Homo sapiens: one gene and its partner. The protein of the gene in region 1 interacts with the protein of each later gene in a biochemical or structural test. Each region holds a gene or a part of one and is shown on either strand. Other genes may lie near its edges.

Region 1 (4,645 bases):
TTTCTTGAGTGAGAAGAGCCAAGGGATTGTTTCTGACAGTCTTCCATGCTCTGGCAGGGCAGCTGGGCAGAAAGATGTTTCTTGATTTGTTTGGTTTGTCCTGTGATGAAAGAGGCCTGGTAGCTCAGCGTGCAGAGGCCAAAGGCCAGAGTTGAGCTCCCAAGTTGGGCCCTGCACCCAGGGGGAGCTGGAGTTAAATGAAGGAAACTTGAGAAAAACGACTCCTGGCAGAGGCACAGGGCCTATTAATAGGCTGGACAGCAGTGGAGAGGGACTGGACGCTGGAAGCACGATGGGGAAGGCTGGGTTTATTTCTGGGTCAGAATGTTGAGGGGCCTCACTGGAGGGAGTGATACGAATTCCCTCAATTTAGCCTACCAGCTCTTGTGCCCAAGCCCTCATAAGTGGCTTAAACAGAACGCCTGAACACACATGTCATAAATCAGCCACACGTGGAACATATCTAGCTGAGGCCTTCAAGTCCTCCCTTGCTTTTTCCATGCCTAGAACAGGATTCTCAGCCCAGAGAACCAGAGGAAATGGAAAAGGGGAGGGTGTCAAGTGAGAGAGGAATGCTACAGAGCTTTCAGAGGGGCTTTAAAGAGTTTTCTACTAGAGGAGAAGGATGGAGGATGGGCAGGGATCGTGGTCAGGGATTGACAGGCTGAGGGTATGAGGAATGGGGTTTGGCTTATGCAGGTGGGCCATTGCCAAGAGAGGCCAAAGCACTAACTCCATCTCCTTCTTGTTCTGTCTTGAACTAGCTGCCACCCGGGTTACCATGGAGAGAGGTGTCATGGGCTGAGCCTCCCAGTGGAAAATCGCTTATATACCTATGACCACACAACCATCCTGGCCGTGGTGGCTGTGGTGCTGTCATCTGTCTGTCTGCTGGTCATCGTGGGGCTTCTCATGTTTAGGTGAGTGTTGGGGTCCCCTGCAGGCTGTTTCTGCAAATCACTCCCTTTCTTCCTCCTCCTGGGCCCTCTCCTTGATGGTCACATGCACTTCCCTCAATCTTTCCAAATCATGGGCTAGCTCCGGGGTGTAGATTCTCCAAAAACCTGGTATTTCTGGCATGACATGAGTCCTGTGTCTAGAGCCCAGGGTCAAATTTGCGAGGCCATAGCAGGTTCTGCTCCTCACAGGAGTTCTTTTCCTGCCTCCATGACCCAGCTACCCACTCATGGAGTCACTTTGTCACACATTTCTTTCTCCTGGCTGTTCTTTGATGGCATTAGTATGTGGTTTGGTAGTCAAGGTGTGGGTGGTGCTAGTGGTATATCCTTCCACTTCTGAGGCGTCTGGACCTCAGGCCCTGCTTTCTAATCCAGGTATGCTCTAGCTTGGGAGACCCACCAAGCACTCTATGCCTGTTTTCTTTCTTTCTTTTTTTTTTTTTTTTTTTGAGACAGAGTCTTGCTCTGTCGCCCAGGCTGGAGTGCAGTGGTGTGATCTCGGCTCACTGCAAACTCCGCCTCCTGGGTTCACGCCATTCTCCTGCCTCAGCCTCCTGAGTAGCTGGGACTACAGGCACCCGCCACCACACCCAGCTAATTTTTTCTATTTTTTAGTAGAGACGGGGTTTCACCATGTTAGCCAGGATGGTCTCGATCTCCTGACCTCGTGATCTGCCCGCCTCGGCCTCCCAAAGTGCTGGGATTACAGGCATGAGCCACCGTGCCTAGCTCTATGCCTGTTTTCAAGCAGTGTAACTCATCTGTCATGAGACCTGGAACAAGTTACTGTCTTTCTGAGGATTGTAACCTTGTAGTGATTGTAATGTTTGTCCATCTACCTCATAAGGATGTTGTGAGGATCACGTAAATGAGGTGAAAGCTATTTGTAAATTGCATCCTGCTATTAGAGACAGGAGTTCCTCGGGGCAGTTGGGCCTTTGACCAGAGTTTGGGCTGCCCTACTGCCTGGGCTTTTCCAAGTAGTAGAGGAAACCACCATGGCAGAGTTCTTTGGAAGGACCTGCTCTGGACCTGCACTTTGTCATAGCAGGCAGGGCTTATTCACAAAACTTATCTTCCTCAGGTACCATAGGAGAGGAGGTTATGATGTGGAAAATGAAGAGAAAGTGAAGTTGGGCATGACTAATTCCCACTGAGAGAGACTTGTGCTCAAGGTAACGCTCCATCCTTTGCCCCATGACATGATTATCCTTTGTCCCCTTTCCTGGCTGTGCTTCAGTGGGTGCTGAATTCTTCATATAGGGGTTGGGGGCCAGGCTACTGTGACATTAATATCCCATTGCAGAATTATTTTCAAAAAGACTCAGTGCTTCACTTAAGGTAAAAGTTGCTAGAGAGACACCTAAGAGAGATGCCTGAGAGGACAGCTTCTCCCACCCTCATCCCCTCCCTTCCCCTCCCCTCTCCTCCCCTGGGAGACAGAGTGAAACCCTGTCTCAAAAAGTTTAAAAATAAAAAAGACTGGACCAGGAAAATCTTAAGACTTCTTTAGACTGGACCTGGCTTTACATGCCTTCCTTTTGTGCTTTAGGAATCGGCTGGGGACTGCTACCTCTGAGAAGACACAAGGTGATTTCAGACTGCAGAGGGGAAAGACTTCCATCTAGTCACAAAGACTCCTTCGTCCCCAGTTGCCGTCTAGGATTGGGCCTCCCATAATTGCTTTGCCAAAATACCAGAGCCTTCAAGTGCCAAACAGAGTATGTCCGATGGTATCTGGGTAAGAAGAAAGCAAAAGCAAGGGACCTTCATGCCCTTCTGATTCCCCTCCACCAAACCCCACTTCCCCTCATAAGTTTGTTTAAACACTTATCTTCTGGATTAGAATGCCGGTTAAATTCCATATGCTCCAGGATCTTTGACTGAAAAAAAAAAAGAAGAAGAAGAAGGAGAGCAAGAAGGAAAGATTTGTGAACTGGAAGAAAGCAACAAAGATTGAGAAGCCATGTACTCAAGTACCACCAAGGGATCTGCCATTGGGACCCTCCAGTGCTGGATTTGATGAGTTAACTGTGAAATACCACAAGCCTGAGAACTGAATTTTGGGACTTCTACCCAGATGGAAAAATAACAACTATTTTTGTTGTTGTTGTTTGTAAATGCCTCTTAAATTATATATTTATTTTATTCTATGTATGTTAATTTATTTAGTTTTTAACAATCTAACAATAATATTTCAAGTGCCTAGACTGTTACTTTGGCAATTTCCTGGCCCTCCACTCCTCATCCCCACAATCTGGCTTAGTGCCACCCACCTTTGCCACAAAGCTAGGATGGTTCTGTGACCCATCTGTAGTAATTTATTGTCTGTCTACATTTCTGCAGATCTTCCGTGGTCAGAGTGCCACTGCGGGAGCTCTGTATGGTCAGGATGTAGGGGTTAACTTGGTCAGAGCCACTCTATGAGTTGGACTTCAGTCTTGCCTAGGCGATTTTGTCTACCATTTGTGTTTTGAAAGCCCAAGGTGCTGATGTCAAAGTGTAACAGATATCAGTGTCTCCCCGTGTCCTCTCCCTGCCAAGTCTCAGAAGAGGTTGGGCTTCCATGCCTGTAGCTTTCCTGGTCCCTCACCCCCATGGCCCCAGGCCCACAGCGTGGGAACTCACTTTCCCTTGTGTCAAGACATTTCTCTAACTCCTGCCATTCTTCTGGTGCTACTCCATGCAGGGGTCAGTGCAGCAGAGGACAGTCTGGAGAAGGTATTAGCAAAGCAAAAGGCTGAGAAGGAACAGGGAACATTGGAGCTGACTGTTCTTGGTAACTGATTACCTGCCAATTGCTACCGAGAAGGTTGGAGGTGGGGAAGGCTTTGTATAATCCCACCCACCTCACCAAAACGATGAAGTTATGCTGTCATGGTCCTTTCTGGAAGTTTCTGGTGCCATTTCTGAACTGTTACAACTTGTATTTCCAAACCTGGTTCATATTTATACTTTGCAATCCAAATAAAGATAACCCTTATTCCATAGCCTTTTGTCTGTTTGTTTTAACCGGGAACTGGTTTAACTTAGTTATTTCCTAAGCCCTGACTTGGTGGTAGGCTCTATACCAGGCCTATTTATGTATACTACCACAACAATTCTGCGATGCAGGTACTATTACTGTCCCATTTTTCCAGAAGGGGAAACTGAGGCTCAAAGTGGTTGTGTAACTTGCCTGAGGATACACAGCTAGTAAATGACAGAGCTGGGACTAGTAGTCTGGCTCCAATTATTTTGTCTTAGTACTTATACCATGCTATCTCTGAGATAAGAAAGAACAGATCTTTCGCACAGCATGTTTAGCTGGCTGTAATCAGGGAAGATATCCACCCATTCAGTCAACAGGCCCTGGACTCAGGATCTACTCCTATGCTGCACATATGAGCAGGCATTGCTTCTGGCAAGAACAAGATGTCTTTGACTACCCTATCTTGCTCCACAGCCAATCCATCAGCAAATCTTGTCAGCCCTACCTTTAGAATACATGCTGTATGCAACCACTTCTCATCACTGCCACTACCATCACCCAGTCCAATTTCGCATCATCTCATGCCTGCACTTTTGTGATGGCCTCTGCCTTTCTAGTTCCATCTTGCTTCCATATAACATATTTCCAGTGTAATAGCCAGAGTGATCATGTCTTTCAGATCTTGTCTGCTCTGCAGGCCTTCCCTGACCACCGT
Region 2 (3,500 bases), on another chromosome or scaffold:
GAAGATGAAAGAGACAGACACCTCAGTTTTTCTGGATCAGGCATTGATGATGATGAAGATTTTATCTCCAGCACCAGTAAGAATAATCAATTACAGTACAGCCATTTATGCAAGGCTTATTGATTAATCTGAGTGATACCAAATTGTATCTCTCTTGAGAAGTAGTTAATGTGAAAAATGGGTGAACCTATGATCATACCTTAGTTATATCTTGATGAGATTATGGAAGAAGAAATAGAATGTTTTGAGAAGTGGGGAAAATATCTCACAAAATTTCTCTTGTCTCATGTTCTTCCTGTTTTATTTATCTATGGGATCTACTGCTACAGATTGTCTTTGAATGATCAGGCTTTATCAGAGAATGACATTAAAACAGTACAAAAAATGTACATTGTGTACTTACTGTGCTAGGTGCTGGAAACACGAAGATGAAAAGAGCCAGAGCCTTTGCTTTTCAGAAGCTCATGGTCTGTTGGAGCAATAGACTTGAAGAATGTGATGAGGAGGGTATTAATTAAAAGTTGTAGGCCAGGCGTGGTGGCTCACACCTGTAATCCCAGCACCCTGGGAGGCCGAGGCGGGCAGATGACGAGGTCAGGAGATCGAGACCATCCTGGCTAACACAGTGAAACCCCATCTCTACTAAAAAATACAAAAAATTAACCAGGCGTAGTGGCGGGTGCCTGTAGTCCTAGCTATTCGGGAGGCTGAGGCAGGAGAATGGTGTGAACCCAGGAGGAGATCGCGCCACTGCACTCCAGCACTCTAACCTGGGTGACAGAGCCAGACTCCATCTCAAAAAAAAAAAAAAAAAGTTGTGGAAGTTCCTAAATTGAAGGCCCTAAAGGCTTAAATGATGGGAGCTAGAACTCAAGAATTATCTTAGTTAATCAAAGCCCAGCTGAGGTCAAAGGAACAAATCCAGAGTTTTAACAAATGAGCTGGACACCAATATAGCAGAAAGACCTTGAAGGGAAGGGCAAATGTCAGGTTAGCTTTAGCAAGACATTGCCACTTATTAAAAGCAAATAATGAAACCACTATTGGTACATAATAGTATCCAAATTTTTGACAATTATAAAACTTTTTGAGAACAAAGAGATGGAAATTGAGCTTTAAAGATATCCTTAAAAAGTTAAAAACATGCAAAGGTTGGTCTAATATTCTGCCAGATTACTGAGTTTTCCACACATACCTGTAATGACTTAAGATTTTGCTGAACAGAGCTGAGAATCCTGAACCTGACTCCATCACAGTTCTGCTTTTCCTTAGAAAAAAGGCTTTTGGGGTGCTGTGTGAGCTCTCCCAATTCACTGAAGTTCTATCCATTCCATTAAAATCTGAGAATTTCATCCTCAAATGGACAGAGAAGAAAGGGTCCAGAAAAAAAAATAGCTTAGGCCTTGAAGGCATCTGAGTATATAACATTGATATGACAAATACTCAAAAGGAACTAGAATTTTCTATCTAAACTTTTAAGTGATTTTTTTTTTAGACCCGACACCCCTCCAGAGCTTAATCTATGGAATAAGAAAATTCCTTTTGGTAACTTCAGAACAAAAACCAAATAATCAAAAACACTGGAGTTTTACATTATACTGTCTCCTGTGTTCAGCATGTGGCCCAGCTTTGCAGATGGGCCCATCAGTAAATACGTGGTCTTGATACTGAAGAAATTAAATTCCCTTGGGTGGTAACCCAAACAGATCTACCTGTAAATGAATTGTATGGTCAGGCTTCAGGGAAAAATTTCCCATGGTGTTGTTTTTTTTTTTTTTTTTTTTTTTTTTTAATTTTTTAAATCTCTATGGCATATTTTTCCAATTTCTGCTTTTCTTTTTTTTTCTTTTCTGCTTAGCACCTATGGACATAATTCAACATGATGCCCTCTTTCTTCTGGAGGGGTGTGATAACTGCTTGATAATAAGCACTTTTTCAGGCCTATTGAGAATGTGGTTAATGATTCTAAACTTGATTTTTCATAACTTGTAAAATAGAGCTGACAGTATTATAGTTCTGAAAACAGTTTTGCGTTATTTGGGTATCAAAATAAAGTTTGAAACAATTAGGATGGATTTGCAAATAACCTTTCACAAAACATGTTGACTCAGATTTTGTCATGATCCTTCTGTTAGGTGCATCTCTTATTCCAGCCCTAACAGATTGGGTGACAATATCAGGGTGCTGGTGGATGTACGCCTCTTTCTTTCCAGTGTGCTGCTATGATGGTGGCTGGTTACCTGTGGTGTCTTATTTTCTTTCACTGGCTATGAATGGCTTGCTCATGACATATTTTGTATTTGATGAGAATACCATAGTGTTTGATAAATATTCAGAAATGTATCGCTAAAACATATGGCTATTCTAGGTATTCTTTTTCAGAATCATCTATAGGAAAGCTCTAGCTGCTCAGGCATTCCTTTCCCCACTGAAATTACTAACAACATAAAGTGATTATCATGGTATAACTTTCAGTTATCTGCCTCTTCACCCGGAGGATCTACAAACAGCACACAGTGACTAAGTCCCTGGGCTTTCAAGTGCAGAGGGATACTACAGACTGCATGGATGGGCAAAATGGCGCCTTTGGTTATCCTCGGTGGAGGGCTGGTGTTTTCAAAGCTGTCCTTCCTACTGCTGCAGCTTCTTTGACTGTTTTATCTGGAAGATCTCATGTTCTGAACCCCAAGGTATTCTATGACAGAATGCAAAGGACACTGAGATGCTTACCAATATGGCTGAATTAAGCTGAAGTCACCCTCCGCTTTCCCTCCATTTCCATGCAGCCATCTATACAACCTGGTATAGATGATTCATTGCATAGCCTACAGAAGCAAGACTATGTGCGGGACAAGTGGCGAAGGCTCAAGAAATAACATTTTTCTAATTGCTTCAATCATCGTTATCACAGTTTCAACCACACCACGGGCTTTTGACCACACAAAACAGAACCAGGACTGGACCCAGTGGAACCCAAGCCATTCAAATCCGGAAGTGCTACTTCAGACAACCACAAGGATGACTGGTAATGGGTTCTGCATATTTAATGAAAGATTTTTTTCCCCTCAAAGCCCATGATGCTGCAAAGGTCAATCATCGAGGCACAGTGGGAAATTTAGTTAATATCTGATCAAGAAATTCTTAGTGGACTTTTATGAGGATACTTAATTCCATTTAGGAGTCATTTATCAATTATACCATGTGGGCACAGGATTTTTTATGTTGCTTCATGATAAAAATGAATATGTTTGAATGGTTTGTGGTTCTGCCTTTGACAAACTGATCATAGTGGAATAATAAGGGAACATGAAGAAATTCCAAGCCCATTGATTTTCTCTTGAGACCAATTAGGTAAAGTCACTCAAAATTTTTGAGAGTGGATGCTCAGAGGTAACACTTTGGCATAGAATTGTTAAATAGCATGCACTTTAATGGAAGAATAGAATCATTAAAGATTGGTTGATAACAAGTCACAGTGTATTTAACCATCATCACAGCAG

Evidence for each region. Proteins that work in one complex are often made in the same cells at the same time.
Region 2: the proteins of HBEGF (region 1) and CD44 form a complex in vitro, tested with the Homo sapiens proteins (one study listed by BioGRID).

Annotation. Positions count from the first base shown.
Region 1 is NC_000005.10:140,332,147-140,336,791, reverse strand, and holds the end of HBEGF (proheparin-binding EGF-like growth factor precursor), read left to right. Parts: intron 1-764; coding exon 765-920; intron 921-2,043; coding exon 2,044-2,116; 3' UTR 2,117-2,134; intron 2,135-2,511; 3' UTR 2,512-3,949; downstream 3,950-4,645. UniProt on the Homo sapiens protein: Growth factor that mediates its effects via EGFR, ERBB2 and ERBB4. Required for normal cardiac valve formation and normal heart function. Promotes smooth muscle cell proliferation. May be involved in macrophage-mediated cellular proliferation.
Region 2 is NC_000011.10:35,198,171-35,201,670, forward strand, and holds part of CD44 (CD44 antigen isoform 1 precursor), read left to right. Parts: coding exon 1-76; intron 77-2,475; coding exon of another isoform or gene 2,476-2,747; exon of another isoform or gene 2,748-2,911; coding exon 2,912-3,025; exon of another isoform or gene 3,026-3,497; coding exon of another isoform or gene 3,498-3,500. UniProt on the Homo sapiens protein: Cell-surface receptor that plays a role in cell-cell interactions, cell adhesion and migration, helping them to sense and respond to changes in the tissue microenvironment.